3 separate regions of the Homo sapiens genome follow, and regions 1 and 2 are each linked to region 3. The links come from fine-mapping of genetic effects on gene expression. A gene starts in region 3. Each other region holds a variant in brackets. All regions are shown on one strand. Distances are from middle to middle.

Evidence for each region. PIP is the estimated chance that this variant, and not a neighbour inherited with it, causes the effect.
Region 1: its variant is fine-mapped to the expression of CLCN5 in cerebellum (GTEx, PIP above 0.99).
Region 2: its variant is fine-mapped to the expression of CLCN5 in liver (GTEx, PIP above 0.99).

What each region holds. Positions count from the first base shown.
Region 1 is chrX:49,769,227-49,780,239 of GRCh38, forward strand. No RefSeq gene overlaps it. Among named protein-coding and RNA genes, the nearest start is that of PAGE4, 55 kb to the right of the region's middle. The variant T/C (reference allele first, on the strand shown) is at 5,854.
Region 2 is chrX:50,472,168-50,483,180 of GRCh38, forward strand. No RefSeq gene overlaps it. Among named protein-coding and RNA genes, the nearest start is that of DGKK, 6.8 kb to the left of the region's middle. The variant C/A (reference allele first, on the strand shown) is at 5,243.
Region 3 is chrX:49,916,733-49,927,745 of GRCh38, forward strand. CLCN5 (chloride voltage-gated channel 5) reads left to right here and starts at 5,864. Exons shown (of 15, transcript NM_001127898.4): 1 at 5,864-6,060; 2 at 6,675-6,750; 3 at 8,439-8,582. The coding sequence starts at 8,567. RefSeq lists a silencer at 6,126-6,175.

The DNA of each region.
Region 1 (11,013 bases), 150 kb before region 3:
CTATCCATTCTCTCAAGCATTTGTCCTTTGTGTTGCAAACAATCCAGTTATACTCTTTTAGATATTTTAAAATATACAATTAAATTATTTTGACTATAGTCACCCTGTTGTGCTATCAAATACGAGGTCTTATTCTTTCTAACTAGTTTTTTTGGTACCCATTAACCATCCTCATTTTTCCCTCAACCCCCCACTACCCTTCCCAGCCTCTGGTAACCATCTTCCTATTCTCTGTGTCCATGAGTTCAATTGTTTTGATTTTTAGATCCCGCAAATAAGTGAGAACATGCGATGTTTGTCTTTCTGTGCCTGGCTTATTTCACTTAACATAATGACCTCCAGTTCCATCCATGTTGTTGCAAATGACAGGATCTCATTCTTTTTCATGGCTAAATAGTACTCCACTGTGTATAAGTACTACATTTTCTTTTCTTTTTTAAATTAAATTAAATTAAATTTTAACTTTTGGGATACATGTGCAGGATGTGCAGGTTTGTTACATTGGTAAACAAGTGCCATGGTGGTTTGCTGCACCTATAAACCCATCACCTAGGTATTAAGTCCAGCATGCTTTAGCTATTTTTCTTGATGCTCTCCCTTTCTCCATCCCCCTACAGGCCCTGGTGTGTGTTGTTCCCCTCCCTGTGTCCATGCGTTCTCATTTTTCAGCTCCCACTTATGAATGAGAACATGCAGCTTTTGGTTTTCTGTTCCTGTGTTAGTTTGCTGAGGAAAATGGCTTCCAGCTCCATCCATATCCCACAAAGGACATGATCTCATTCCTTTTTATGGCTGCGTAGTATTCTATGGTGTATATGTACCACCATGGTACATTTTTTAAATCCAGTCTATCATTGATGGGCATTTGGGTTGATTCCATGTCTTTGCTATTGTGAATAGTGCTGCAATGAACATATGTGTGCATGTATCTTTGTAATATTGTAATATCATAAAGATTATAATAGTAGACTGATTTATATTCCTTTGGGTATATACCAAAGGAATTTCATTACTGGGTCAAATGGTATTTCTGATTCTAGGTCTTTGAGAAATCACCACGCTGTCTTTCACAATGGTTGAACTAATTTACATTCCCACCAACAGTGTAAAAGCATTCTTATTTCTCCACAGCCTCGCCAGTATCTGTGGTTTCTTGACTTTTTAATAATCACCATTCTGACTGGTGTGTGATGGTATCTCATTGTGGTTTTGATTTGTATTTCACTAATGATCAGTGATGTTGAGCTTTTTTTCATATGTTTGTTGGACCCATAAGTGTCTTCTTTTGAGAAGTGGCTGTTCATATCTTTTGCCCACTTTTGAATGGGGTTGTTTTTTTCTTATAAATTTGTTTAAGTTCCTTGTACATTCTGGATATTAGACCTTTGTCAGATGGATAGATTGCAAAAATTTTCTTCCATTCTGTAGGCTGTCTGTTCACTTTGATGATAGTTTCTTTTCCTATGCAGAAGCTCTTTAGTTTAATTAGATCCCATTTGTCAATTTTTGCTTTTGTTGCAATTGCTTTTGATGTTTTTGTCATGAAATCTTTGCCTCTGTTTATGTCCTCAATAGTATTGCCTAGATTTTCTTCTAGGGTTTTTATAGTTTGGGGTAGTACTACATTTTCTTTATCCATTCTTCTGTTGATGGACATTTAAGTTGGTTCCAAATTTTGGCTACTGTGAACAGTGCTGCAACAAACATAGGAATGCTGATATCTTTTTGATATACTGATTTCTTTTCTTTTAGGTATATACCCAGCAGTGGGATTGCTGGATCATATGGTAGCTCTATTTTTAGTTTTTCCAGGAACATCTAAACTGTTCTCCATAGTGGTTGTACTAGTTTATAATCCCACCAACAGTGTGCAAAGGTTCCCTTTTCTCCACGTCCTTGCCAGCATTTGTTATTGTCTGTCTTTTGGCTATAAGCCATTTTAACTGGGGTGAGATGATATTTCATTGTAGTTTTCATTTGCAGTTCTCTGATGACCAATGATGTTGGCACCTTTTCATACGCCTGCTTGCCATTTGTGTCTTCTTTTGAGAAATGCCTATTCAAATCTTTTGGCATATTTTGGTTGGATTAGTATATTTTTTCCTATAGACTTGTTTGAGCTCCTTATATATTCTGGTTATTAATTCCCTGTCAGATGGGTAGTTTGCAAATATTTTCCCCCATTCTGTGGGTTGTCTCTTCACTTTGTTGATTGTTTCCTTTGCTGTGCAGAAGCTTAACTTGATGTGATCCCATTTGTCTATTTTTGCTTTGGGGGTATTACTGTGCTTGTGGGGTATTACTCAAGAAATCTGTGCCCAGACCAATGTCCTGGAGATTTCCCCCCAATATTTTCTTGTAGTAGTTTTATAGTTTGAGGTCTTAGATTTAAATATTTAATCTATTTTGATTTGATTTTTGTATATGGCGAGAGACACGGGTCGAGTTTATTCTTCTGCCTATGGATATCCAGTTTTCCCAGCACCATTTATTGAAGACTGTCTTTTCTTGGCACCTTTGTCAAAAATTAGTTAGTTGTAGGTGTGTGGATTTGTTTCTGGGTTCTGTATGCTGTTCCTTGGGCTATGCATCTGTTTCTATGCCAGTACTATGGTGTTTTGGTTACTATAGCTCTGTAGTATAATTTGAAGTCAGGTAATACGATTCCTCCAGTTTTGTTCTTTTTGCTTAGGATAGCTTTGGCTATTCTGGGTCTTTTGTGGTTCTATATAAATTTCAGGGTTGTTTTTTCTATTTTTGTTAACAATGTCATTGGTATTTTGACAGGGATTGCATTAAATCTGTAGATTGCTTTGGGTAGTATGGACATTTTTGCAATGTTTATTCCTCCATTCCATGAACATGGAATATCTTTACATTTTGTGATGTCCTATTCAATTTCTTTCATCAGTGCTTTATAGTTTTCATTGTTGAGATCTTTCACTTCTTTGATTAAGTTAATTTCTCAATATTTAATTTTATTTGTGGCTATGGTGAATGGGATTACTTTCTTCATGTCTTTTTCAGATTGTTCACTGTTGGCATATATAAGTGCTACTGATTTTTGTTATTTATTTACTAGTTATTTTGTGGTCTTCTCTTTCTTCTTTCTTTCCTATCTTTCTTTTAATGAAGTTGACTTTCTCTGATGATGTGATTTAATTTCTTGCTTTTTTTGTATCTGTTGTATGTTTTCTTATTTGAGGTTACCATGAGGCTTGCAAATACTATGTTATAACCCATTATTTTAAAAGATGACAACTTAACACTGATTGCATAAACAAAGAAACAAACATGCAAAAAGAAAAGTAATAAAAACTCTACACTTAAGCTTTGTTCCCCTACTTTTTAAACTTTTTGTTGTTTCTCTTATGTCTTACTGTCCTGTCGATGTCTTGAAAAGTTGTTGTAGTTATTATTTTTGATTGGTTCATTTAGTCTTTCTACTTATTGTAAGAGCAGTTTATGCATTACAATTACAGGGTTATAATATTCTATGTTTTTCTGTATGTTTACTATTACCAGTGAGTTTTGTACCTTCAGATGATTTCTTCTTGTTCAATTAACATCATTTTCTTTCAGATGAAAGAACTCCCTTTAGCGTTTCTTGTAGGCACAGGTCTGGTGTTGATGAAATTCCTCAGCTTTTGTTTGTCTGGGAAGGTCTTTATTTTTCTTTCATAGTTGATGGATATTTTTGCTGCATATACTAGTCTAGGGTAAAAGTTTTTTTCCTTCAGCACTTTAAATATATTATGCCATTCTCTCCTGGCCTGTAAGGTTTCCACTGAAAAGTCTGCTGCCAGATGTATTGGAGCTCTATTGTATGTTATTTGTTTCTTTTCTCCTGCTGCTTTTAGATCCCTTTTTTATCCTTGACCTTTGGGAGTTTGATTAGTAAATGCCTTGAGGTAGTGTTCTTTGGGTTAAATTTGCTTGGTGTTTTATAACCTTCTTGTACTTGAATGTTGATATCTTTCTCTAGGTTTGGGAAGTTCTCTGATATCCCTTTGAATATACTTTCTACCCCATCTCTTTCTCTATCTCCTCCTTAAGGACAGTAACTGTTAGATTTGCCCTCTCGAAGCTGTTTTCTACATCTCTTAGGTGTGATGCATTCTTTTAATTCTTTTTTCTTTTGGTCGCCTCTGACTGTGTATTTTGAAATAGGCTATCTTCTATCTTCAAGCTCACTAATTCTTTCTTCTGCTTTATCAATTCTGCTGTTAAGAGACCCTGATGCATTCTTCGGTATATCAGTTGCATTTTTCAACTCCAGAATTTCTACTTGATTGTTTTTAATTATTTCAATCCCTTTGTTCAATTTATCTGATAGCATTCTGAATTCCTTCTGTGTTATCTTGAATTTCTGCAAAATAGCTATTTTGAATTCTCTGTCTGAAAGGTCACATATTTCTGTTTCTCCAGGATTGGTCCCTAGCACCTTATTTAGTTCACTTGGTGAGGTCATGTTTTCCTTTGTGGTCTTGATGCTTGTTGATGTTTGTCAGTGTCTGGGCATTGAAGAGGTAGATATTTATTGTATTCTTCACAATATGGGCTTATTTGTGCCCATCCTTCTTGGGAAGGCTTTCCAGGTTTTCAAAGGGACTTGGACCCCAAGCCCAATAACACTGTGGGTTTGTCAGACTCATAGAGGTACCACTTTGGTGGTCATAGGTAAAATCCAGAATAATTCTGTGGATTACCAGGCAGAGTTACTTGTACTCTTTCCTTACTTTCTCCCAAACAAATGGAGTCTCTCTTTTTGTGCTGAGCCGCCTGGTACTGGGGGTATGGTGATGTAAGCACCCCTGTGGCCACCACCACTGGGACTGCACTGGGTCTGACCTGAAGCCAACACAGCACTGGGTCTTGCCCAAGGCTTGCTGTAACCACTACTTGGCTACCACCTATGTTTACTCAAGGCCCTAGGGCTCTATGATCAACAGGTGGTGAAGCCAGCCAAGTTTTGTGTTCTTTCCTTCAGGGTGGTGAGCTGCCCCTGGCCCTGGGTGGGTCCAGATATGCTATCTGAGAGCCAAGGATTAGAGTCAATAATATTAGACATTTACTTGATGTTTTCTTCTACTGTGGCTAAGCTGGCACTCAAACCACAATACGAAGTCCTTCCCACTCTTCCCTCCTCCTTCCACAGGCAGAGGAGCCTCTCCCTGTGGCTACCAACACCATAGCCCACAGGGGTTTCTGCCAGGCCATGCTGATGTGCACCTAAAGTGCAAGGGCCAAGGACTCTTCATTCAGCTTGTGGTGAACTCTGGGAGGCCTGAGACTTACTTTCAGGACAGTGGGCTCCCCTCTGGCCCAGGGCAAGATCTGGAAATGCTGTCCAAGAGCCTAGGCCTGGATTCTGGGACCCCAAGAGCCTGCTTGTTGCTCTACCCCCCAATGTGGCCGAGCTGCTACCTAAGGGGCAAGACAAAGTCCCCTTTACTTTTCCCTCTGCTTTTCTCAAGTAGAAGTCTTTCACCATAGCCACCACAACTTGAATATACTGGTTCACACTGGAAGCCAGCATGTCTCAGAGTCTCAGCCAAGGTCCATTGTGTACTACCTGGGTATTGCTGCTGGTTATTCAGGGCCCAAAGGCTCTCTAGACAGCAGGTGATGAATCCTGCCAGAACTGGGTTCTTCTCTTCAAGGCAGCAGGTTCCCTTCTGGCCCAAGGTGGGTCTAGAAATGTCATCCGGAAGCTAAGGCCTAGAATGGGGGACTCACAACTCTGCCTGGTGCCCTCTCTTACTGTGGCAGAGCTGATATCCAAGAGGTAAGACAAAGTCCTCTTTACCCTTTGCTCTCCTCTCCTTAAGCCAAAGGAAGGAGTCATCTTTG[T/C]TGCTGTGAGCTGCACTTCCTGGGGTTGGAGGAGAGATGGCACAAGCACTCCTTTAGCTGCCCTGGCTGGTGTTTCTCTAGGTCACAGGCCACCCTAGTCCACTGACACTAAACCCAGCCTAGCACTGGGAGTTGCCTAGGAGTTGCAGTCCTTGTATCCTAGACTGCCTTTCAAGTCTACCTAGAACCCCAGAACACTTTGACCCACCGCAGTGAGGCTTGCCAAGAAACTAATGTCTTGACCACTGAGATGAACCATTCCCCTCTGGCTAGGGCTGGCCCAAATGCTCCCTCTGTTCATGGGTGCTGGCTGAGCCCAGCATGGCTTTGCTCTCTACTGTGACAAGGTGGCACTGAGTTCAATGTAAAGTCCCCCAGTTGCTGCACTCTCCCTCCCGCAAGTTCACAGATTCTCTCTTCACACAGCATGACTGCTGCTGGGGGATGGAAGAGAGGTGGTGTCAGAGACTCAAGACTGTCCATCCTACCCTCTTCAATGCCTGTTTCAGCAATATGAAGTTAAAGCCAGGTACTGTGATTGCTCACCTGATTTTTGGTTCTTGTGAAGGTAATTTTGTGTGCAGATAGTTGTTAAATTTTGGTGTTCCTGTCGTGGGGAGAGATGAATGGTGGAGGCTTCTATTCTGCCATATTGTTCTACTCTCCTAGATTAGATGGTTTTTTTTTTTGTTTGTTTGTTTTTTTAGACAGAGTCTCGCTCTCTCGCCCAGGCTAGAGTGCAGTGGCATGATCTCAGCTCACTGCAACCTCTGGCAACCTCTGCCTCACGGATTCAATTGATTCTCATGCCTCAGCCTCCTAAGCAGCTGGGATTACAGGCGCCCACCACCATGCCTGGCTAACTTTTGTATTTTTAGTAGACACAGGGTTTCATCATGTTGGCCAGGCTGGTCTCGCACTCCTGACCTCAAGTGATCCGATCACCTCGGCCTCCCAAGGTGCTGGGATTACAGGAGTGAGCCACTGTGCCTGGCCCTAGATGAGTTTTTAATTAGTCTTATTCCACCTCCTCCTCCTTCTTTTACTACAAATATGTACTACTTTCCTCCTCCTCCTCCTCGTCCTCCTCCTCCTCCTCCTTCTTCTTCTTCTCCTGGACAAAATGGTGAAAATAAAGTTTTCCTTCACTTTGTGAAATCTCGTTCTTTTTCCACTCTATCCAGTATGTCCCCACTTCCAGTCCAATTCTCCACATGGTTTCAGATATTCAGCTCCAACTCTTAGGCACATCTGGTTCATAATCCAAGTCACAGATTCATCACCTGTCAGCCATTGTGGTACCTCCAAACTTTGCCAACTACTCCCAGTACTCATTGCTATTGGCTAAAAGAAGGGGACATAGTTGTGTGAGGCAATCTCCATTCGTCCATGAATAAAACAGAACATGGTTTGTGCTGATGGAGGAAGGGGGGTCAGTTGTTTTTATCTTTGCATGGGAGAGATTACACTCTGCATTATGATGAAGTGATTCATGTGTCCTAAGTAAAGTGGCGTGCTTTTAGAGGGACGCGGAATGGCCAACATCTGGCATTCCTGCCAGCAGCCTCCATGGCTATTCCCTTGGAGAACATGACAAGTCTGTTAACAGCATTCTTTCCAGCTGATCCCTAATGCAACCCCAGAATCTTGACCCAGGAATCCTGGGCACAATGCTTTGTTCTAGCACCTCAAAATATGATCTTAGCATCAGACAGGAGCTTATTAAAGATGCAAATTCTCAGGCCCCACTCTAAATTTACTGAATCTGAATTTGGCCTCACTTTCAGGAATTCTTGGTCTCTTTACAAGCTGTGGCAGATAATTACCTAAATATAACCCAATCACCCACTCATTTCACGGAGTGGTTTGTGGTCAGTTTGCATTAAATCATCTGGGATATTTATTACAAAAGTTGATTCGTAGGTTCTTCCTGAGAACCTAGGATAATGCCAGGAATCTATATTTTTGACAAATGTCCTGGAGTATTATTCTTAAATGTAAACTGATGTGGTGGGATTCTAAGTAAACATGGCTGTTTCTCTGGAATGCAATACACTCATTCTAACACACAAGGTAGACAGGGTGGGGTGAGGCAGTGGTTTCCCTAGGTGTATGTTGAAAAAACTCTTGGAGCCGGGTGCGGTGGCTCATGCCTGTAATCCCAGCACTTTGGGAGGCCAAGGTGGGCAGATCACTTAAGGTCAGGAGTTTGAGATCAGCCTGGCCAACACGGTGAAATCCTGTCTCTACTAAAAATACAAAAATTAGCCAGGCATGGTGGCATGCACCTGTAAACTCGGGAGGCAGGAGAATGGCTTGAACCCAGGAGGCAGAAGTTGCAGTGAGCTGAGATGGTGCCACTCTTCTCCAGCCTGGGTGACAGAGCTAGATTCCGTCTCAAAAAAAAAAAAAAAGAAAAAGAAAAAAAGAAAAGAAAAAAAAGACATAAAAGAAAAAGCTCTTGGTCTCTCTGAAGTCAGGCCAAGGCATAAATTATCTAGTGCATGAATGTGGAAAATACAGGCTGTGGAGTCATACACCATTTACTAGGTGAATGTAATTTTGTTGAGCCATAACTATAACATTATGATAATTATGCCTGGCCTGTCATAGGGAGTATTCTGGCAAGTTTCTGGTGCATAGTAGGAACTCAAGCTTTTTTGTCTATTGATGTGTACTAGTATTTCCATTTATTCATCATTTTGAATATACAATCAATAACACAAATAATTAAATAATAGTTAATATTGAGTGTTAATTATACACCAGGCACTACATGAAGCATTTAATATACATTATCTCATTTATTCTTTACAAAAACTCTACCAGGGTGGTATTATTATTCTCTTCATTTGACAGAAAAAGAGAACTGAGATGTGGGGTGCAGCCAAATGCTCCTAAGGTCGCTAAGCCTAGACTCTTTCAAGCGTATTTGGCACCATGCTAGCTTGGTGAAGGTTGAAATGATGTAAGAGACAAGGTCTTGGAAAAAATCTTTTTATAATCTTGAAGGAAAGCAAGCCCATGCAAACAAATAACCAAGATGAAGACATACCCAGAACTTCCAAGGGGTACACATGGAACATCATAGACTTTCAGAGGAAGAAGAGGCCACTTTCAAGTTCAATGGTCAGGGCAGATTTCATGAAGAAAGTGCTCTTAAATGTAACATTGGAAGATATATAGGGTCCTGGTAGAAAGGGATTGAATGACTTACCACATGGAAAGTATAAAGCTCTTAAATAGAGGGCTGGACATGGTGGCTCACGCCTGTAATCCCAGTACTTTGGGAGGCCGAGGCGGGCGGATCACGAAGTCAGTAGATCGAGACCATCCTAGCTAAAATGGTGAAACTCTGTCTCTACTAAAATACAAAAAATTAGCCAGGCGTGGTGACAGGCGTCTGTAGTCCCAGCTACTCGGGAGGTTGAGGCAGGAGAATGGCGTGAACCCGGGAGGCAGAGCTTGCAGTGAGCCGAGATTGTGCCACTGCACTCCAGCCTAGGTGACAGTGCGAGACTTTGTCAACAACAACAACAAAAAAAGAATGCTTGTGATTTTTGCACATTGATTTTGTATCCTGAGACTTTGCTGAAGGTGCTTATCAGCTTAAGGAGATTTTGGGCTGAGACGTTGGGGTTTTCTAGATATACAATCATGTCGTCTGCAAACAGGGACAATTTGACTTCCTCTTTTCCTAATTGAATACCCTTTATTTCCTTCTCCTGCCTAATTGCCCTGGCCAGAACTTCCAACACTATGTTGAATAGGAGTGGTGAGAGAGGGTATCCCTGTCTTGTGCCAGTTTTCAAAGGGAATGCTTCCAGTTTTTGCCCATTCAGTATGATATTGGCTGTGGGTTTGTCATAGATAGCTCTTATTATTTTGAGATACGTCCCATCGTACCTAATTTCTTGAGAGTTTTTAGCATGAAGGGCTGTTGAATTTTGTCAAAGGCCTTTTCTGCATCTATTGAGATAATCATGTGGTTTTTGTTTGGTTCTGTTTATATGCTGGATTACATTTATTGATTTGCATATATTGAACCAGCCTTGCATCCCAGGGATGAAGCCCACTTGATCATGGTGGATAAGCTTTTTGATGTGCTGCTGGATTCGGTTTGCCAGTATTTTATTGAGGATTTTTGCATCAATGTTCATCAAGGATATTGGTCTAAAATTCTCTTTTTTGGCTGTGTCTCTGCCAGGCTTTGGTATCAGGATGATGCTGGCCTCATAAAATGAGTTAGGGAGGATTCCCTCTTTTTCTATTGATTGGAATAGTTTCAGAAGGAATGGTACCAGTTCCTCCTTGTGCCTCTGGCAGAATTCGGCTGTGAATCCATCTGGTCCTGGACTCTTTTTCGTTGGTAAGCTATTGATTATTGCCACAATTTCAGATCCTGTTATTGGTCTATTCAGAGATTCAACTTCTTCCTGGTTTAGTCTTGGGAGAGTGTATGTGTCGAGGAATTTATCCATTTCTTCTAGATTTTCTAGTCTATTTGCATAGAGGTGTTTGTAGTATTCTCTGTTGGTAGTTTGTATTTCTGCAAAATCAATGTGCAAATATAACAAGCATTCTTATACACCAATAACAGACAAACAGAGAGCCAAATCATGAGTGAACTCCCATTCACAATTGCTTCAAAGAGAATAAAATACTTAGGAATCCAACTTACAAGGGAAGTGAAGGACCTCTTCAAGGAGAACTACAAACCACTGCTCAATGAAATAAAAGAGGATACAAAGAAATGGAAGAACATTCCATGCTCGTGGGTAGGAAGAATCAATATCGTGAAAATGGTCATACTGCCCAAGGTAATTTATAGATTCAATGCTATCCCCATCAAGCTACCAATGACTTTCTTCACAGAATTGGAAAAAACTACTTTCAAGTTGATATGGAACCAAAAAAGAGCCCGCATCGCCAAGTCAATTCTAAGCCAAAAGAGCAAAGCTGGAGGCATCACGCTACCTGACTTCAAACTATACTACAAGGCTACAGTAAGCGAAACAGCATGGTACTGGTACCAAAACAGAGATATAGATCAATGGAACAGAACAGAGCCCTCAGAAATTACGCCACATATCTACAACTATCTGATCTTTGACAAACCTGAGAAAAACAAGAAATGGGGAAAGGATTCCCTATTTAATA
Region 2 (11,013 bases), 560 kb after region 3:
ACTGACCTAGCCAGAATTTTCTAGAATCTGCAACATCTTTCTGTTGCCTATACTATGTCTCAGCAATAAATAATACCATAAGAGCACAGTTTCACCTAAATCCCTCCAAAGACCAGAATCTCTGGTGAGGTCTGCATTTCCCAGATCCTCGCTGCAGCCTCACAGCCTAAGCCCACCTTTCCAGAGATGTGTTAACACTGCTTGGCAGCTACTAAGCTAGTGCAGGGACCGTCCTTAAACTCTGGGGATGGGAAGACCAGGAGAAGTGAGCCCTATCAATTCCCTCACGTGGCAGTCCTCCTTCCAGTAAATTCACCTTAGGAGCCCACTCTCTTCACCCTCCTTGGGCTTGTTCTCCTTTCCCCTATCCCACACTCAAGTAGCCAAGCCGCCTTTAACCCTAAGAGTTCAGGACTGAAATATACAGGTGCCAGATCTCATTATTGGATCTGGTGCATTAAAGTGCCAGATCTGACCAACCAGCAAGTCCAGGACTGGAGATCACTTTTCTGGCTCTCACACCTTAATGGAATCCCTGTCCTTAGAAGGGGCAGATATCCCACATTTAAATTTTGCTTTTTACTAAACCCAACATGTAGTTAGAAGGGCTGAAGGCTGAGCAGTCACAGAGTAAGATGGCCTCTTGGGTTACAGATGGCCTCTTGGGGTTTGGCATAGACAGTGTATTGTCAAGCGAGATACCACCAGGGGACAACTTGGAGTTACTGCTTTATGTATGTTTATTGAAACTCTTGTCTATAATTCTACACTCAATTATAATGAGGCCAACATTTATGATGTAGACTCTTGCTACAAGGTCATTTTGAGATTGAATGCTAAAATAGTTGCTTGTACATGGCTTTTGCTCCATTAGGGTAGGTTACTGGAGATATACTGCCTGAACTGCATTATGATTAGTTTTGAAGGTTTTAAAAAATTATTTTTCAGCCCATCATTAGCTACCTTATTGCCTCATATCATAGTAAGGGTTCTTTGTGTGTGTGTGTCGGGGGTTCCTTAGCCCAGCATTGAATACCATGCTTTACATTGGAGGCAGAGTAGAGGGATGGCCAGAATGGTTGATTGGTACCTGATTTGGGGAGGCACCTTTGCTGTAACTAAGCTACACCTTCCTCTTTCCCATAACCTGCTGGTTTCTTAATAAAGTTTTACTTAGATGCTTCTGTATTTTCCTCACAACCTAACCCAGGACTTGAGGTCATAGTCAGGATTCAGGAAATGTCTGTTAAGTGGATGATTCATTGTAGGTTACTGGTTAGGATGTATTTTTCTGCCTTGCTTTTCAGCACTATTTGATATTTCAAATGATTAATGATCTCCTAAGAGGCTCTCTTTTAATTAAACAATACAGATTTTTAAAAAGGCAAAGAGGTACATAAGAATTTCTTTAACCAGACATATCTGGAATGATGACCGTATCCACAGAGGCTTGGATGAACATAGTTCTGGATGTCCCAGGGCAGAAATGGTCCTTAGCCTGGGACTTTTGGGCATGTTATATAAGTTACCTGATTGGGCTGGATGAAGGATCGATCAGTACAATAGGCTCATATCTTTTGAATATGCAATGCACTACCTTACCCAACTGCCAGCATTTACTCTGATTCTACCCAGAATAAAGCTTATCCAAGCCAGCATGGAGCTCCTTCAATTTCAGCCGTGCTCAGAGTTCTGGAGAGGCAAAGGAGAGAAAAGCTGAGAAATGTGACAAAATTAAATCTCTTCTCCCTTCCTGTTTTCATTTCATTTTCATTATTGAATGAGAGAGTGGCACTGTATTGCTAGAGTGGAAGCCCTTCCCCCCTTGATCAGTAGCTTTAAATTCCCTAAGTCCTCCCTTTTAGAGCAATTTGGGAAGAAATCAGTGTCTCTCCCGAGTCTTAGCAGCTGCCAACCTCCCCTACTGTACTACCTCGGGATGTGCCAAGCCAAAATAGCAACCTTTATAATAATCTACTAAATAAAATAAGGAGATGGGATGAAGAACAGGCAGCATGTATGGAGAAGGTAGAGGATTCAGACTATTAATTTAGCTGGGATTAAAATGCAAACCTGTTAACCTTTACTCACTCTAGTCTCCTAGGATTAATTGATATAGGATTGGAGAGTTAAAAAGTTAATACCTTGCATTTGTATAATGCCTTTTTATTTCTAAAGTACTTTCACATATATTATCTCACTTCAGCCTCACAACAAATGTGTGAGGCAAGCAAATTCGGACTTCCATCACATACCCCTGTCCCCTACCCTTTAACAGATGAGAAAACACAAGTCCAGTGAGACTAAGTGCCATGTCTTAGGTCACAGAGATAATTAGTGGTGGAACAGACATTTAGAACTTGTGTCACTCAATTTCCAGCTGAGGGAGACCAGAGCACAATACTGAGGGCTGTGAGCTGGGGGCTGTGAGACAGGGTCTGTGTAAATCCTCTTCATAGCAGAGTGGGAAGGCTGCCTTAATGCCTTTTTCTTTCTTGAGCTTGTCAAAGGAGCAGAGGTTTCTCAGCTCTCACTCTTTCTGGACAGCAGTTAATGATCTGCAACCAAGCTCACTATAGGAGGTCCCTGTTTAGAGGAACATTTTTGAATATGTATGTAATATAATAATTCAACCAGGGTATACTCATTTTATTGGTTCTGTTTTTATGTTTTCTTGAAGTGAAGCACTCCACAGTTAAGCGGTATTTACTGCCAGTCTGTGGTGTATACAGCCCTATTAGGTGTCCTGGGGAAGGAGAAAGGGCAGAAATATTAGACGTGATCCTTCCCACAAGAATTATTAGAGCTTGGTGGTCAAGATAAGCCAAATACAGGTGAAAAGCAATCCAAACACAGATGCCAGTTTATGATCATGACACCACACTTTGTACTTTTCTGGGGGGCTGGGGGTGGGTGGGGACTAAGTGTGACAGAGCGGAAAGGAAATTGCAAGGGGAGTCAGGAAATCTGGCTTCATATTAAGGTTCTACCACTAAACTCTCAACATGACCTTATACAGATCATTTAATGTCTTTGGGCCTTAAGTTTTCTCGTATGAAAAATGGAGGTGGGAATAAAGTTGAGCTTGATCATCTAGCTCTAAAGTCTGTTTTAGCACGAAATATCAGCAATCCTGTGAGTGAATCACGGACAGCTTTTTGTAAGGGGACAGATCTTGAAATGGATCTTGAATGATGCAATTAACATAGATCAGCAAAGGGGAAGTGGAAAGGCATTGCAGACAAGGAGAGAAGCAAAGATAGAAATCTGGAGGTGAGAATGAGCCAGGCTGGTTGAGATAGAGGGAACATACCAACGACTGATGAGAGATGAGATTAGAGTGAAGCAAGTGGTAGGGAGAAAGCGGGATGTAAAAGGTTTTCAACATCAGATTGAAGAGTTGGAAGATTTGGTTTTAAAGGTAATGGGAGCAATGAAGGCTGTTTGAATATAGGTGTACATGGTAAAACTAACCAGTGAGGAAAAATTGTCCTTGACTGTGTATTTGGTTCTGGAAGCATCTACAAATCTGCTTTGTTTCCCTAGAGCTGATATCCAGTTGATTTGAGGTAATTTGTAAAATCATGATTCTTTCTTTATTTTTGCTGCAACCTCTAGCTTTGGGTCTGCATTGCCAAGGCTGCTGGCCCAACTGGCTTAACCACCTGCCTATACATTTGGATTTAGTCCATAATGGGTCATTTGGCTTCCATGGACTCAACATGCTAATGGGATTTCTAATTTAAAATTCTAACTGATGATGAATGACCAGGGGATGAGAGAAAGGTCTTTGTAGGTAAGCAGGAGTGGGATGGTTGTGGACCTCAAAGCAGATTCAGAGACTGAAAACAGTTTGAAGAAAGATAAGAAAAAAAATGAATCTTTGCAGAATCTTTAACTCACTGTGGCTTAGACATGGGGGAAAGCTGATGAGAAACAGCCATCCAGTCTAACCTGCCAAGGATCTAAACCCAGCTTGTATTAATAAGAGAAAACAGATTGCTCTAATGGCATAGAGAAAAAAGTGGTGGAAATTTTGGTGTGGCAGATCACAGGTGTGTGTGGGGGGATCTGAGGGAGGGAGTATAGAGCTGATAGTGTCCCTTAGGTGATGGTGTTTAGAAGGAGTGAAAAAGATTATTAGAACCCTCCTGGTGTGGTGTCAGTAATGGAGGCAGGCAGACATTTGTAATACTCAATCTCAGTATTTGAATATGTGTATGTGTGTGTGTCTTTATCCAAAAAGGAAAAAAGATAATGTTAGTAAGAATTGTCTCGCACAAAATTACTTTGTTACCTCACCACCCTCTACAAACGCTTTATGACTGACTTTAAGAGGGAAAGTGATGGATATAGGAGGGAGGAACGAATAGAGAAAGGAATTTAAGAAAAAGAGGTGTTGATAGGCAGAACTGCTGTGATGAAAAAGGTTGGGGAAGAAGGTGGCTTTCTTTTCCTCCAAAGAACTGCCAGCAGCCTTTCCAGCTGTCCCTTTTTCTCTTTCTTGTAGTTCTCCCTTACTGAGAGTTAGCTCAAAATGCAGAATTAATCAGTTCTGTCATAAGAAGGAATCTCAGGGGAGAGGCTTTACACAATTGAAGTGACTTGCAAGGACAAGGCGTCACAGAACTCAGTTGTCTTAGATGGAGATTAAAGCATTCAACAGTCATTTCCAGGACCTCCCTTCTATCATTCACCTTTTGGTTTTAAGTCCCCATGCTCTAGTTATGACCTTTAGGCATGGCCATTTCTGGAAGGGCCTATTCCCTTTAACCACACTTCATATGACAGAACTAGGCTCAGTTTCCCCCTTTCTCTTTCTCAGCTTCACTGGTCTCTGCAATAACAAGGCCCTTTCCCAACTGGGTCTCAGAACCTTAACGTGGCCCTGGGGCAAAACTGCAGCAGCCTGACACCCAGGGTTTCTAGGGATTGCATTATTCAGTCATCAATTCCACAAATAATTATTGAACATCTACTACATGCTTGGCACTCATTTGAATGCTGAGGATTCACCAAAAAACAAGACAGACATCATCCGTGCTCAAATAGCATTTATTGGCTAAGGGCTGGGGAAATACAGACATACATACATGAAGACGTTGTTTCAGAAAATAAGTGCAATAAAGAAAACAAAAACTGATGATGTGATAGAAAGTGCCTGGAGGGCTACTTTGGTCAGTCAATTTATTTACTCATTTGCTTAATCCTATAGCACATCCAAAATAGTTTGGAATTACTT[C/A]ACCAATGCTACTACCAACAACAAACCTACTAAATAAACTTCAAGATTTTTTTTCCACCAACTTCTGATTTGAAAACTTTTCAATCCTACAGAAAAGTTGCAAGAATAATACAGTGATCACTTACATATTCTTTACTGATTGCTAACACTTTATCACATTTACTTAATATCTATAACTCCATCTATTTATCTGCATATCTACCTCTTTATTTTTGGCTGAGCCACTTGAACGTTTGTTGCAGACATCATGACATGTCACACATAAGTATTTCAGCATGTATCTCATAAACAGCAAGGACATTCTCCTTCATACACAATACAATGATCACACTTATGAAATTTAACAATGATACATTAATATTATCTAGAATACAATGCATATTTGAATTTCTCAAATTGTCCAAATAATGCTCTGTATAGCTTTTTTTTTTTTGTAAATATAGGGTCAAATCATAGATTGCATTTAGTTCTGTGTCTTTAGTCTTCTTTAATCTAGATTACTCCCAGCTTTCATTTGTCTTTCATGACATTGACACTTTTGAAGAGTACAGAGCAGTTGTCTTTAGACTGGATTTCAGTTTCAATTTGGGTTTGCCTGATTGTTTCAGATTGGATTGTCATGAAAGGCTTCTCTGAAGAGGCAACTTTCAGTTGAGTCTTGTCAACAGGAGGAGGCAGCTGTGAAAATATCTGGGGAAAGGGATTCCAGGCAGAGGGAATGGCAAGTACAAATTCCTGGAGATGGAGACAGGCTTGTGTTTGAGGGAGAAAAAGCAGGCCAGAGTGACTGGAGCCTAGAGATCAAGGGGGAGAGTCCCATGAAATGAAATAAGATAGGCGGGATTCAGATCATGATGAAGCATATAAGTCATGGGAAAGAGAAGATTTTGTTCTAATTGCAATGGTAAGCCACTAAGGGTTTTATGTAATTTGGTGACATGATCTGATTTGAATTTGCTTTTAAAAATAGTTTTTACACCGCATGTTCTCACTCATAAGTGGGAGGTGAACAATGAGAACACATGGACACAGGGAGGGTAACAACACACACTGGGACCTGGGGTTAGGTGGCGGGAGGGAGAGCATCAGGATAAATAGCTAATGCATGCGGGGCTTAATACCTAGGTGATAGGTTGATCTGTGCAGCAAACCTCCATGGTACACGTTTATCTATGTAACAAACCTGCACGTCCTGCACGTGTATCCCAGAACTTAAAATAAATACAATAAAGTTGAAAAGAAAAAAGAAAAAATATAATAAAAAATTAAAAAATAAAAATAGTTTTTATTTTCTAAAGAATTTTGCTTTGTATGCAGTTTAAAGAAACAAATAGGTACTTGTCATAGCTGTCAACCTGCCCCCCTCTCCCATTATCTGCTCCCTAGAGGGAACTACTTGGAGCTCCTTTAGCTAAATAGCATGCTTGTAAAGCTAATTCATAATTTTTCAGATTAAAGCATTCTATGGAAGAGGAGAGTTTAGTTCATTATCACCATAAGCCCCCGTGCATGCACAAACACAGACTTCCCATTCCACCACTCTACCAGTACAGTTATGTCATAATTTTGACTAGATCAATATTCAGTGTTTACATTATTATGACTCTGGAAATGCTATTCACAGCTGAGTTACATAGCACACTAGGATTACTTTTCCTTTCTTGCACATCTGCTTGTTTTTAATGGAGCCGATAATTGTCTTGTTTATTCTCTTGCTTATTTTTCTACGTACTTAACATTAGCTCATCCACAACCTGTTCCCCAGTTGACTAAATATTCTCCCAATATGTGAAGATGCATTGGCTCTTCTGTCAGTCTCGTCTTCTGTGAGACATCTTTGAATTGCTCCAATATGGCCCAATTGCTCTCTAGATCTGTAGAGCACTCTCATCCCATGATATCCCTAATAATTTTGAAGATATTTCTTCATTGTTTTCTAGCTTCTAACTTTTGAGAAGCCTGAAACCATTTGGAATCCTGATCCCTTGTAATTTTTCTTTTCTGGAAGCCATTGGGTTCTTTGTTTTGTCCTTAGGATGCAACATCACATTGATCTCCCCTGGTGTGTGTCCATTTTCTTTCACTGTGTTGGGTATTCTGTGGACCCTTTCAATCTTAAAACTGTCTTTCAACTCTGGGAACTTTTGTTGAATTATTTATTTAATTTTGTTCTCTCCAGTTTTTCTGACCTTTTCCTCCCTGGAACTCATGTTATTCTTATGTTGGACTACCTGAATAATGTAATTTGCTTACATTTTTCTTATTCTTTCCATGTGCTTGTCTGTTTGCTCTACTTCTGGGCTGTTCCCTCAGCTTTATCTTTCATTGCTTCTGCAATACTGCAATGCAATTCTGACACTAACAGAGTTAGCAGAGACTCTACTGGTTAAGGGCACAGTCTCCAACAAACTGTTCTCACTTCAGATGCCAGCTACAAGTTCAGGGTTACCTGCACTTCTGACCAACTGGCTACCAACTTGGGTATTCCAATGAGCCCCTCAGGTTTGATGATTCCCTAGAATAACTCACAGAACTCAGAAAAGTACCATGTTTATGATTACAGTTTTATTATAAAAGATGCAAATCAGGACTAGCCAAATGAAGAGACCTACAGGATGAGGTCTAGGAGTGCCCTAATTGTGGAGCTTCCGTGTCCTCCCCTTGTGGAATCAGGATATGTCACCCCTGGCACATCAATATGTTTACTAACTAGGAAATTCACCTGAGCCTTGGTGTCCAGGGTTTTCACTGGGGTTTCATTATACAGGCATGACTGATTGAATCATTGATCATGTGATTGAATTCAGTCTCCATTCCCCCTTCTTCCCTCCCCAGAGGTCATCTTCGCCTGATATCATCTGGCACAAAGCCCCAACTCTCTAGTCACATGGTTGTTGGTCTTTTCAGCCTCACCAACCCCCATCCTGAAACTATCCAAGAGCCCACCCTAAGCCACCTCATTATCATAAATTCAGTCATGGGCCCAGAGGCCCATCATGAATAACAAAGACACTCTTATCACTCAAGAAATTTTAAGAGTTTAGAAGCTCTTTCCCAGGAAACTGAGACAAAGGTCCTGCAACAAAAACCAGACAAATTTTTCATTCTACAACATTTTCTAATAAGAAGTTCAAAGCAGGATTTTTTTAAAAAAAAAATTCAACTTTTATTTTAGATTCAGGAGGTACATGTGCAAGTTTGTTACATGGGTATATTGTGTGATGCCAAGGCTTGGAGTACAAATGATCCTGTCATCCAGGTAGTGAGCATAGTACCCAATAGTTTTTCAACCCTTGACTCCCTCCCTACCTCCTGCTAAGTAGTCCCCACTACTTATTGTTGCCATCTTTACGTCCATGAGAACCCAGTGTTTAGTTCCAACTTATAAGTGAGAACATGTGGTATTTGGTTTTCTGTTCCTGTGTTAATTTGCTCAGGATAATGGCCTCCAGCTAAAGCAGGAATTTTTCAGAGCAATTTTTTGCCCTCTGAGTATCCTTTTAAATATAATCTTGCTCTTTTTTGATAGATACAACATCTTATCTCTTTGAGTACAATAATGGTTATTAATTTTCATTTCTGTTTCTTTTAAGTTTTTGGTTTATTGGTTGGTTTAGGTTTCTATCTTTGATATTGGAGGCTTTCCTCAGATAGCTTGTCATCCTTGGCTGTTTGCTCATATTTATGAGTAGGTTCCTAAAAAGCTAATTAGAAGGTCAGAGTATTTAGTGAGACTTGTGTGAGTATATCAGTTTTCTACTGTGGCGTAACAAGTTACCACAAACGTAGTGGCTTAAAACAACACGCATTAATAATTTCATGGTTTCTGTGCATTAGGAGTTCAGGTCTGGGGTAGCTGAGTCCTCTTTCAAGAGTCTCCCCAGATTGTAATCAAGGTGTTGGTCAGGATGTAAACTCATCTGGAGTTTTGATTGGGGAAGAATTTGCTTCCAAGCTTAATCAGGCTGTTGGCAGAATTTATTTTCTAATGACCACACGACTGAGGGCCTCAGCTTTTTGCTAACTGTTGGCTGGAGGCTACCCTCAGGTCCTAGAGGCCATCCACAGCTCCTTAAGGAGATTGGCAGTTACTTGCCATGTAGGCTTCTGCAACATAGCCTCCCATTTCATCAAGCCCAGAGGAAGAGACATTAGCTTCTGTCTGCTAAAGCAGAGCCTTTTATAATGTAACTTAACTATGAGAGTGACATCCCATCACCTTTGCCATATTCTGTTAGGTTAGAAGCAAGTCACATTTCCCATCTCCATTCAAGAAGAGAGAAGTATATAAAGGCATGAGTACCAGGAGGTGGTATCCACTGGGGATTACCTTGGGTCTGTCTACCACAATGGGTTTCACTGCAAGGTGATCTGGCTGGGTCATTTCATTGGACAACCCTTTATATCAACATCTTTAGGGTTTTTTTTCTTTTTCTTTATTATTATTTTTTTCTGAGGTTGTTCACATTTCCACAGAAGGATATTCCAGCCTGGAGGTTGTAAGCCTGACTGTCAGCATTCTAAGAACTAAGTGGGGCCAGGCACGGTGGCTCAGGCCTGTAATCCTAGCACTTTGGGAGGCCGAAGCAGGCAGATCATGGGGTCAGGAGTTTGAGACCACCCTGGCCAACATAGTGAAACCCCGTCTCTACTAAATATACAAGAAAAAAAAAATTAGCTGGGCGTGGTGGTGTGCACCTGTAATCCCAGCTACTCAAGAGGGTTGAGGCAGGAGAATCGCGTGAACCCAGGAGGTGGAGGTTTCAATGAGCCGAGACGGCATCATTGCACTCCAGCCCAGGTAACAGTGCAAGACAACATCTCAAAAAAAAAAAAAAAAGTACTAAGTGGGATAAGAGGCTAAGAGTATCAACAATCAATATATAAACTTCTGAATGTCCTTGTTTTCCATATGGTACTTCTTCCTCAACTGTGCTTCCGCAGTCCAGAGACCCTCTGTTTTACTCTCTCTAGAGAATAAACCTCACATCTGATGGGAGTTGGGGCAGAGACAATCACACAACCGTGAGGAGTTGTGGGGGAGATCTTAGGATCCAACTGGTTAATAAGAATTTCAACCAATACTCTTGTTTTTAGACTTACTTTCACCTCCACTTCCAGAAGTACTGGTACTGCCAATTTTTGAGCCTTTTGGAGGTTCTTTATTGTGAATTGTGTTGGTTGTCAATTTTCCCCAATGCCAGTTTTGGATTCAGTTTCTGCAGGTCGGCTGTCAGTTACCCTTGTATGTCTATTTTCTAGCTTTAAATATTGCATTGTTGTCTTCTCTCCCCAAATTACTGTCATTTTAATGAGGGTTGGCAGCGAAGTGGAGGTAAATACACGTGTTCAAATTGTCATGGTCAATGAGATGTCCTAATTTACATGTTAAAAAGATTACTGTGACCTTTTTGTGAAGAAGACTATGAGGGAGGGATAACAGTGGAAGTTGGGAGAACAGTTAGGTAGCTAGTTCTAACAGAAGAAATAGATAGCACTTGGTAGTAGATTGAGAGTGGGGAGAAGAGAGAGGGAGGTGTCACCAATGTCTCCTAAGCTTGTGTAGTAGGATGGATGGTGGATTTCACCCATTTTGTGATTCATTGTTTTCATGTCATTTTCCAGGACAGCTATCAACACACTTGTCTCCCTCACTACTACAATTGGTGTCACCACAAAACCAGCTCAGAGCAAATCTAACATTGCCAGGAACACAGTTACCATGATAAGAAAGCCCTAATGTAATGACCACCACCAACAACTACTACTAC
Region 3 (11,013 bases):
AATATAAAGTAAAATATAGGACATGGGCCTGCCATCAAGGAGCTTGCAGGCTAGTTGGTGAACAGGTAGCAGAGTGGTTCAGAGACGCCACTACCACTATTCCACTGTGCTTTAACTCCTCTATGGAACAGAAGTCTATACAGAGCTGAGGAACTTACAAGTGAAAGATCTTCAAATCCTCAAAAACATTCCCTAAACAAACCCTCATATCTGCTGCCATAGAATAGTAGCAACTCTAGCTAGACTTGGACTTCTCTCACATGGAGGGCAGCCTGACATGGGATTTTTTTTTTTTTGAGACAGAGTCTCACTCTACTGCCCAGGCTGGAGTGCAGTGGTGTGATCTCGGCTCACTGCAACCTCCGACTCCCGGGTTCAAGCAGTTCTTCTGCCTCAGCCTCCCAAGTAGCTGGGACTACAGGCGTGCACCACCATGCCTGGCTAATTTTTTTGTATTTTTAGTAGAGACGGGGGTTTCACCATGTTGGCCTGGCTGGTCTCGAACTCCTGACTTCAAATGATCCACCTGTCTCGGCCTCCCTAAATGCTGGGATTATAGGCATGAGCCATCACACCTGGCCTGACGTGGAATTTTTAAAAAGTAAAATTTCTCATGAAGGTCACTTGTCAAAAATTATCCTTCAATCAAACACTATTCTTGTTTTTCTATATTACTTTTAAAGATATATAATTGAATGGGTAATACACATCCATGGCACAAAATTGAGAAGGTGCATAGCTCTACATCCACATACTGTATTGTAGAGAATTTTGCATATAAGTACATAAAAAAGTTTTCTCATTTTTTTTTTTTGAGATGAGGTCTCACTTTGTTGCTCAGGAAGGAGTGCAGTGGTGCAATCAAGGCTCACTGCAGCTTTGAACTCCCAGATTCAAGTGATCCTCCCATCTCAGCTTCCTGAGTAACTGGGACCACAGGTGTGATGCCACACCTGACTAATGTTTGTATTATTTCTAGAGACAAGTTCTCACTACGTTGCCCAGGCTGGTCTTGAACCCCTGGGCTCAAGCGATCCTCCCACCTTGGCCTCCCAAAGTGCTGTGACTATTGGTGTGAGCCACTGCATCCGGCCTTTCATTCTTTTTCTTTTTTTTTTTTCCATTGGAGAGATGCACCATTATTTATTTGATCAGTCCCCTATTGAGGGACATCTGGTTGCTTCCCAGTTTTTATTATTACAAACAATGCTACAGTGAATAACCTCGTTCATATAACATTTTACACCCATGCAAACATAACTGAAGGAAATATTTCTGGAAATTAAATTTTGGGATCAAAGTCTCATATATTCTTAATTTTTATAGTTATTGCAAAATTGCCCTCAATTGACTAATTGCACTCCCACCAACAATTTATGAGAGGACTTACCCTCCCACCCCTGCTTTGTCAACACAGTGTATTATTATTACTACTATCATTATTATTATTATTTGAAGCAGTCTCATTCTGTCGCCCAGGCTGGAGTGCAGTGGTGCGATCTTGGCTCACTGCCACCTCCGCCTCCTGGGTTCAGGTGATTCTCCTGCCTCAGCCACCGGAGTAGCTAGGATTATAGGCATGCACCACCACACCCACCTAATTTTTGTATTTTCAGTAGAGATAGGGTTTCTTCATGTTGGCCAGGCTGGCTTCAAAATCCTGGGCTCAAGTGATCTGCCCACCTTGGCCTCCCAAAGTGCTGGGATTACAGGCATGAGCCACTGTGCCCGGCCAACACAATCTATTATAAATATTTAAAACTTTGCCAGTGGTATCTCATGGTAGCTTTCATTAGCATTTCTCCAGTTATGAGGTTGGCTATCCATTTTTGGTATAGAAGCCATTTGTTAATTTTGATACCCTGCTCTCCAGGCACAGGGCAATTACAAATGACTTCAGATCACTTTATCATCAGCATTTCCTAACCTACTGTTTTGATAGATCCCCTGAGCTAGAGAACTTTGTTCATTTTCTTTTATTCTGCCCCATTTTTTGTTCTAGAACTATCCCAGGCATTTCTTAGGCACTCGGGAAATTTTACTTTAAAATCAGTATTTCTAGCGGCTAGCACAATGGCTAGCATAATAGTAAGGGCTCAAAAAATGTGAAACAAATAAATAAGAACCATACAAGAAACATTCACTTACCACTCTACATGGCTACGTACTCATCTAACTGTCTCTATTTGCAATGCCAATTTTAAAATGAAAGTTAAAGCTGCATTTAGACATGATAGTTTAGATGTCACTGTGGTCTATTGTTCTAAAGCTTTTTCTTTTGCAATATTAAGTCTGAAGTGCTACCTTTTGTTATACAGAGAAATTCCGTTTTTTTTTAATAAGCTTTAAGATCACAATGTATTTACTCTTTGCTCTGTAAGACCTGAAATGGCTCTTGACCTGTTAACAGTTTGTTGACCATCATGGGAGGTGGGGTGGGAACATCTTTTCAATTTTGTCCAGGGTAGGGGGAGGAGAGCAGAGGACTCATTATGTTGATCTATCTTCACTCTCTTGGCCAAACCCACTCACTTCCATGGGCACAAACACATGGGACACCTGGCTGGATTTCTGTAGAGAGTGGTCTGAGCCATGGGAAAGAAAACAAGTTAACAGTCAGAATCTGTACCTCTTGATTGAACTGTTAATTTTGCCACATTAGCACCACACTCTCACCACTTCGCTTGGGAAGGTATTGTACAGACATTTATACTCACCACACAAATAGCTTCCGAAAAACTTGGGGATCCAAAGGCTGAAGGAGCCTTGTTCATTATCATCATTATCATTATCAATAGTAATACAAGCTAGCATTTATTGAGTGCTTAATCTGTTCTAACTGTTCTACACCTGTTAATACATTTACTCCTATTATCCCATTTTATAGGTAAGAAACCCGAAACAGTGAAGTTAGATAACTTGAACAAGGTGACACAGCTAGTAAGCGTCTGAGTATGGTTGGCTTTGAGCCCAGGCAGTCTGGCTCTGGAGCTCACTCTGTTTTGTTTTGCAATTCGCAAAAGATAAAATGTTCTTTTTTTGAAATGCACATTTTTTGGGGGGAGGGGGAGATTTCGTCCCCCAACTGGAGCCCTCCAAGCTGTCATCGGTCAGTGGCGACACCAAGTGGTAAACTGGGTGTACTGCAGCCCTTTTATAACTCCCAATTCCCCCCAATTCCTTGCTCCCTCCCAACCCCTCCTACTCGCTCCCCAGCTCTCCCAAATAAACCTGTATGTACTTTAAGTAAAGCCAATATGTTTGCTCTGCAGAGGCAGTTTCGTGACATGTCTCCTTCCAACCAGACTGCCATCCTTCAAACCGTTTTTTCCTGTATCAGAGGAAGAGGTGTCCGAGGTTAGTTTGTGTTTTGAATCTCATTTCTCGCCTCTCAATTATTTTACTCCATTAGTTATCCCCTCCTTTTCTTGACTCTTTTGTGTGTGTATGTGAGACAGAGTTTCGCTCTTGTTTCCCAGGCTGGAGTGCCGTGGTGCGATCTCGGCTCACTGCAAATTCTGCCTCCTGGGTTCAAGTTATTCTCCTGCCTCAGCCTCCTGAGTAGCTGGGATTACAGGCGCCAGCCACCATGCCTAGCCATGTATTTTTAGTAGAGATGGGGTTTCATCATGTTGGCCAGGCTGGTCTCGAACTCCTGACCTCAAGTGATCCACCTGCCTTGGCCTCCCAAAGTGCTGGGATTACAGGCGTGAGCCACTGCACCCGGCCTCTTGCCTCTTTATTATTGATTTCACCAGTAGTTTTTCTGCTCGACCTACATATAAGCTCCAGTTTCTTCTACTTCAATGACAAAAAAAAAAATCAAGCAAACAATCAAACCTTTCCTTGAACAATTACTCTAGATTCACCTTTTAAAAGATGAATTCCAAAAGAGGATTGCCTTGCTCAGAAACCTCAATTCTTTCTCAGTCACTTTTTGAATTAGGTATAAATCTTAGTCCAATATTCAGGATGCTCCAAAATTGGGCCCCAATTTACCTTCTGGGTATTATCTTCCACAATTCCCCTGTACTTCCTTACCCTAAACTTCAACCACATAGGACTACTCACGGGTCCTCACATATAACTTCCTGCCTGCTCACCTTTGCCAACGGTGTTACCTCCACTTGGATTTACCTTTATTAGAGGCCTGTACTGATATTTTCTAGTTATTTGTGGCTATCCCATACACCATGAGTGCCTGAAGGAAGGGACTGAATGTTACCAGCTCAGAAAGCAAAAAAATTTTGGACTGAAAAAATAAAAATCCGGCCATTCATCAGGCCGGAATAACACACAGATAAAACCAGATGCAAATTTAACAGAGAACAATATTTCTTTGGCGGACATATTGCAGCTGTAAAGTGGTAACGATGTTTTTATTTCAGTGACCACCACTTTTTTATTCACTGAGAGACTTTGTTCTCTAAAATCGTAGATTATCAGAAACTTTTCTGCTTGAAATCGTATCAGTAAGAATGAAACATCCCACATGCATCTGGAGGACATAAGTTTCTTTGACACAGAGAAGCAGCCTCAATTTCCAACCCAGGTGCAGAGCTTCAGATAAGGGGTATCTGGACACAACATTCCACATCTATCTTTATTTTGTGGTTCCCAAGGAAACACAACTCTGGGTTCACTTTGCAGTTCAGACCTGATGGTGACCCCAAATGACAGTACTGCTTTGCTTTGAGCTTACCAAAAACACTGCTTTGTTTAAAATTCACCTAAACTCCACTCTTCTCTCCAATCCTATAATGACTCCATGTTTTTCTGTTTGATGAAATGCCTACCGTGTGCAGTCTCTCATATTGCAATGGGTCAAAGCCTGACTATGTCGGATTACAAATTTGTCCCCGGTAGCCTTATGCTGATTGGGCTAGGATAGGGGTTTTTAAATCCCTGACCACTTAGCTTGTCCAAAGTAGGCATTCCAAATTGTTCACTGCAGTAGAGTACCCTGGTTCTAGTTAGATTACTTGGATTATATGGATTCCAGTCTCAGGTCTGCCAAGAACTAATTAGCTGGATCATCTTAAGTGAGTCAGTGCACCCCATTTGGCCTAAGTTTTCTCTTCTGCAAAACGGTGTGCTGTTTCTTTCAAACCTAGGGTAAGGGCTTTGGAGTAAGTTAGACCTAGGTTGGATTCCCAGTTCTACCACGTACTAGTCCTGTGACTTCAGCTTTTCTGAGCCTCTGTTTTGTAATGATTAATATGGAGATAATACAGTACTAACAACTGCAGTATAGTTTTTGCAGCGTTGCTGGAAACATCAAGTTGGCTGTTAAAAGTATCACTACGTTTGATCACTATTCCTATTCCTACTATTATATGAGTTTAGACAAGTTACTTAACCTTTCTGTGCCTGTGTATTTTTATGAGTAAAAATGGAGAAATAACCCTCGGGGTTATTGTGAACACCAAATGAGACGAAAAAAGTAAAGGGGTTAGGAGAGTGCCTGGCACATAAGAAGCAGCTCAAATTATGTGATCTAATGTTATTAGTATTAGATTTCTACTACTAATTACTCTGTGGGCCGAAAGCTCAGGATAGACAGTTTCATTCTAAGGACAAACCTTCTCCCCAGCAAAAAAAGGCACTGCAAGCTGGAAATAGTGAAACACAATGGGGCATTGCGTTTTCAAAGGCAACTGACACGCCCAGCACTGGGATAGGACCCGCCCGCCCAGTCCTCATTAAATATGGCAGCGAGCGGGGCCGACGTACTGCGGCTGCGCAAGTTGAAACTCCTCCTGGCAGCTCCTCCCCGGCGGGCCTCCCCTCATCTCGGCTGGGTAGAGGTGCCGGGTGTGAGCTCGGCGTGGCGCGCACGCGCAGACGCTGGCTGGGCTGAGCCGATACTCGCGAGGCGCCCTGTCACATGAGCCGCGCGCCCGCTTCGCTCCCCCTCCTCCCCGGCTGGGCTGTGTGAATGAAGCTCTGCCGGCTACGTGGGGCGCTCACTCAACTTGGTGTCCTGGACGCCAGAGCCGACCGAGCGCGCTGCCCACCGGCGGCGGACACGGGCTCCGCCGCTCCGGACCTCGGCGACAGGTAAAGGCAAACGGGCTGTCCCTTCCCCAACAGGTCCTTGGCGGGCCGCTGGCCCCCGGCCCACCCCCGGAGCACCCCCTAAGCGCAGCGACACAGGGGAAGCGCAATCCCGCTGGCTTGGACCCCCGGAGATGGGGCTTCCCCGCGCCCGGCGTTGGCAGCCCGGCGCTTAGAGGAGGTAGACAGGCTAGTTCCAGCCAGTGCTGAGCGGCGTCTTCCCGGGAGCCCAGCCCTGTTCTCCGAGTTATGGTCCCTGGGTTGCCCGAGCGAAGTTTCCTTGCGGAGCGGCGCCAAGCCCGCCCCGCTTTTGAATCGGAGTGTTTAGCCGCCTGCGTCCCCTTTCCCGGACTGGGGTAGGGTGACTTAGGCTGGCAAAGCTCAGCCGAGGCCCGGCTCTTCTCCCTCCGGCTCTGGACTTGCCGCTGGTTTTGTATGGGTCTTAGCAAAGTGGAGAAACTCTCGGAAAAGTAGTTGCTGCGCTGTTTTCCTTTTGCCACTTAACGCGCGTAGCTGGTTCTCTCCAGACTTTCGAGCCTTGCTCTTGAGCGCCTTGATCCACACGGGAAAAGCTTTGCCTTTACATTGACGCACGTTTCCTTTGATTAACATTTCAGAGCAAATCAGTTGCCTGGAGTTCCCAGTGAAGTTGTACCTGTGCCCGTGCGATAACGTCAGTGGAAGCTGCCCCGAGTAAGTGAGGGAAATCTAGAAGTTTGGAGCATAAAAAACCAGCACGAATCAACTTTACATAAACTTCATACATTTATTAGCAACTGCTCGGGTTTAACTTCAGGGATGTTAAATTTCGCCTAGTCCCACGGGACGATGATCATTACTTCTTAACTGCACGCGAAATAGGAGAAGAAAAAAGGCAAATCAAAACAGACTGTCCCAGGTCTCAGAGAAGTCATCGGAGCGCTTTTTCCTGCTGAATTCACCCTAGGAGTTTGTGAGTTCCTAGTTTTCTTGGACTTCGCGAACTTTTCCTTGTCCAAAGCACTGTCTTTTCTCTGTTGGTGTTTTGGGACTGGTGTACACATTAACCCTTTTGTCATTAAAGAAGGCCAACACGATTCTCAAGCTAGTATTAGCCTTCAGTGTTTGTGCTTTAGCACTTTCACTTAGGAGGTGGAGGTGTTGGTTGTATAAAAGATATGGAAATAACAATCTACTTTGATGTTCACCAGGTCAAAAAGGTGAAGACTTTTAGAAAAAACAGATTGGCTTGTATGCTAAGTAGGGAAGACCAGTTTATTAACTGAGATCTTGTTTAAATGGGCAAGCAGAGTGTTAAGCCTCTAAGTCAAACTAAGTCGTCAGACCTCTCATTTTTTCTCCCATTCCTAGCTCCTATTTTTTTTTTTTTTTTTGGTTTGAGCCGGCTCTCGTTCTGTCGCCCAGGCTGGAGTGCAGTGGCACAATCTTGGCTCACTGCAACCTCCGCCTCCCTCCCGGGTTCAAGCGATTCTCCTGCCTCAGCCTTCCGAGTAGCTGGGATTACAGGCGTCACTTGTAATTATAGTGCACCGCCATACCTGGCTAATTTTTGTATTTTTAGTAGAGACGGGGTTTCACCATGTTGGCCAGGCTGGTCTCGAACTGACCTCAGGTGATCCGCCTGCTTCGGCCTCCCAAAGTGCTGGGATTACACCGCACCCGGCCCCTAACTCCTTTAATATCTTTGCAAATATTGTCCTAGGACTGGATTTGAAGTTTTAACAACAGGAATTAGCTGAATTAATTTGGTTTTCTTTAAACTGGTATTCCATTTTTACATTTTTCTTCTTCTTTGGTTCATTTTCCCCCTGATTATAAAAGCAATATACGCTCACTATAGGAAATTTGCAAAGGGTGGGAAAGTATAATGACACAAGGAGAGAGAACTACTACTCAAAGGGTATCATCACTCTTCACTTTTTATTCCGCTTCCTTTTTTTTCCCCTATACAAGATCTGTTTCCAAACTTTATTCATAAACTTTCCTCTCCTTCTACTGATTTTTAAATGTAAAGTTGGGTATTTTGGGGGTTGGTTAGGGCACTGGATATTAATGTTGCTCTTCAGTCTCCAAAGCATGAAACTTCAAGGTAGGAAAGGTGCTTAACGGTGATTTCATCCAGCAACTCATCAACTGAGACTCAGACCTCATTTACTGAAGCTCTAATGATTCATGCAGAAATGTATAGCACTGAGTGGCAACATTAACTCACTCCAGATCTCTCTCTCTTCAGAGATACCTTGCTGCTTAGAGGGAAACTTGACACTACCCATGCCTGCATATCTTTGAAAGAGAGGTTCAGAGAGGAGCAGGAGATAATTTTCAAGCATTTGAAGTGTATAGTTTCTTTTAGGTATTCATTTTTCTGTTTACATTTTCAGGTTTGGGGCTTTAGCCCCTTGGAGAAAACAGGGCCACATAGCTGCCTTTCTATCAAGTCTCCCTACAAAACTGAGAGGCTCTGGGAAACTCAGCCTGTGACCCCAGCGTGGGTGAAGATAGGATCAAGATGGCCATGTGGCAGGGTAAGAAATTAGCACTTATTCTTCTAACTGGTTTTTCCTCCTACTCTATTCTCTACCCTCACCCAACCGTTCCCCACCCAGCCAATGGCAGGCAGCCAGCTGTTCTTTAATTTAACCCTTTGTCTTTGCAGGGACAAAACACATTAGTTTAAAAAGAAGCTGCTGCTAGCTATAAGTTTAAATTATTTAAAAGTGGGGTTGTAGGAGAAGTAGGAAAATGCCATGCCAGCAGCATTTAAAAGAACTCCCTTCATTTAAATAAGTGATCATTGGGGGTTATATGCCAGGAGACAGGATATTTTTTCCCATTTGTGTTTTTCATTTGTTTCTGGCAAATTTCTATCATAAGATTCCCCACCATAAGGTTGGGGAGACAGATGTCACTGCCTCTCCAGCTTCATCTTCCCAATAAAAACTTTGTGATGTATGCAGTTTGAAAGAGCATATTTAATGTTACAGTGTTTATATTTGATACAATATAAACATTGAGAAGGAAAACGCCTGTTTTAATAATATGAACTACCTGAGAGCAAAGCTCAGTAGTATCTTAGCTGATGTATTACATCTCTCATGAACTTGTGAATTCCTACCACATACAAAGTTATGTTTTATTTTGAGCGGAGTTGCGGTTTGTGCCCTTTGGAGGGTTTAGGAGTCTCCACGGGTATGTGGGATTTTTATTGTTATCAAAAGTGAGTGTGGGTTTAAGAAATGATAGACAAACACTACCAAAATTGGCCTGTGACCCACAAAAAGTTAAAGACCACTTAAATGGAGTGGAATGAAATAGCTTGAATATCTAGAAATATTCAGCAGGTTGGTTAGTTGGTGGTCTAATGTATCTTTTAAAAATGTTTCATTGTGTTGGTTGTGACTTTATGTAGGCACACAAATGTAACAAGTAGTTTCCATGTATAAAGATTATCAATGAGAAGACATTTATGGAAACGGGATTTGGCCTGTATGCTTCCTTTGACTCACACAATGGGCATTTATCAAGAGCAGTTTGGATATTCTTGCTTAAATCCTGAGACATTATTTCATTCAACAAACGAAATACAGAGATGAATAAGTTGCAGGATGCTAGAAGATTCCTTGTCATCTAAAGACAGACATACAAACAAATAATTTTGCCATGTTGAATAAGTGTTAGAATAGAGAGGTACAAAAAGCAAGGGAAGCCCCGAGAAAAGCTTGATGAAGTCTGAGTTTTGAGCTGGTCTAAAAAAATGAGTAGGAGCAAATGAGAGAATTGCATTCTGGGCAGACAGAGCAGCACTGTTTGGGAAGTTCCAAGTTGCTCTGTTTGCCTCATGTGAGATGTGTAGGGGCGCGACCTCAGATGAAGCAGGGAAGGTAGTTGGAGGCCAGATAATAAAGAGCCTTGTATGTTCTAGGAAGGATTTTACACTTTATCCTGAAGACAAAGATTCTAAACAGGGAAGTAACATAATCAGATTTTGTTTTAGAAAGATTACTTTGGCAGCAGTGCTGAGCTGGAAATGATGAAAACTGGGAGTCAGTCAGGAGGTTTCTGGAATAGTTTAGGGGAGAGATGGTAAGGGTCTGAGCAGAAGCAGGGGCAGTAAGGTTAGAATGGGATTCTAGAATGTTCTGTGACTGGATGTGGCAAGAAATGGGCCTGGATTAACTACCAGCTTGGGTGCCTGGGGGCCACTGGTGCCATTCTCTGAGATGGGGAGCATGGGAGGCAGCTGATGGGCATGGGGGTGGTGCACTGGATTTGGATGACCTGTTTGGGTTGAGACACCTATGTACTGTCAGGTCAATGTTTCAAAGACAGTTTTGAAAGTACAGAACTGATATTGGCACAGATGGGGATCTAAAGTTTTGTTCCTAATGATGCATAAAGAGCTTGTATTTTTTTCTCTGTAGTTAATGGAAATGTCATTACTAGTTAATGATTTATTTTACAATAAAAACATTTTAATGTTTAACAACTCTTAATCAAAATGTCATATTTTCATAGTAAATAATGTATTTTGCAAGCCCAGGCCCTGAAATCAGATGTGCTTAAAATTACATTGAAGTGAAACCTCATTTTTCCAGCATTAGTGAAGAGGGGAGTATTCTATATAAGTAAGCTCTTTGGATAACTGCAGCTTATCCTTTGTTTTGGCTAACCTCTGAAGTAACCAGCAAAGTACGATGATAGTTTGGAAGCAGTGTGGTATGATAGTTAAATGTGTGGGTCTGAGTTCTACTCCATTGGTTCTGTCACTTGGTAGCTACGAGGCCTTGGGCAAGTAACTTAATCTCTCTGTGTGGAAGTTTTCTCCTTTACAAAATGGAGATAGTAATATAACTCATCCCATTGCTGAGTATATAGCCAAAAGAAAGGAAATCAGTATTGAAGAGAGAGCTGCACTCCCATGTATATTGCAGCACTACTCACAATAGCCAAGATAGG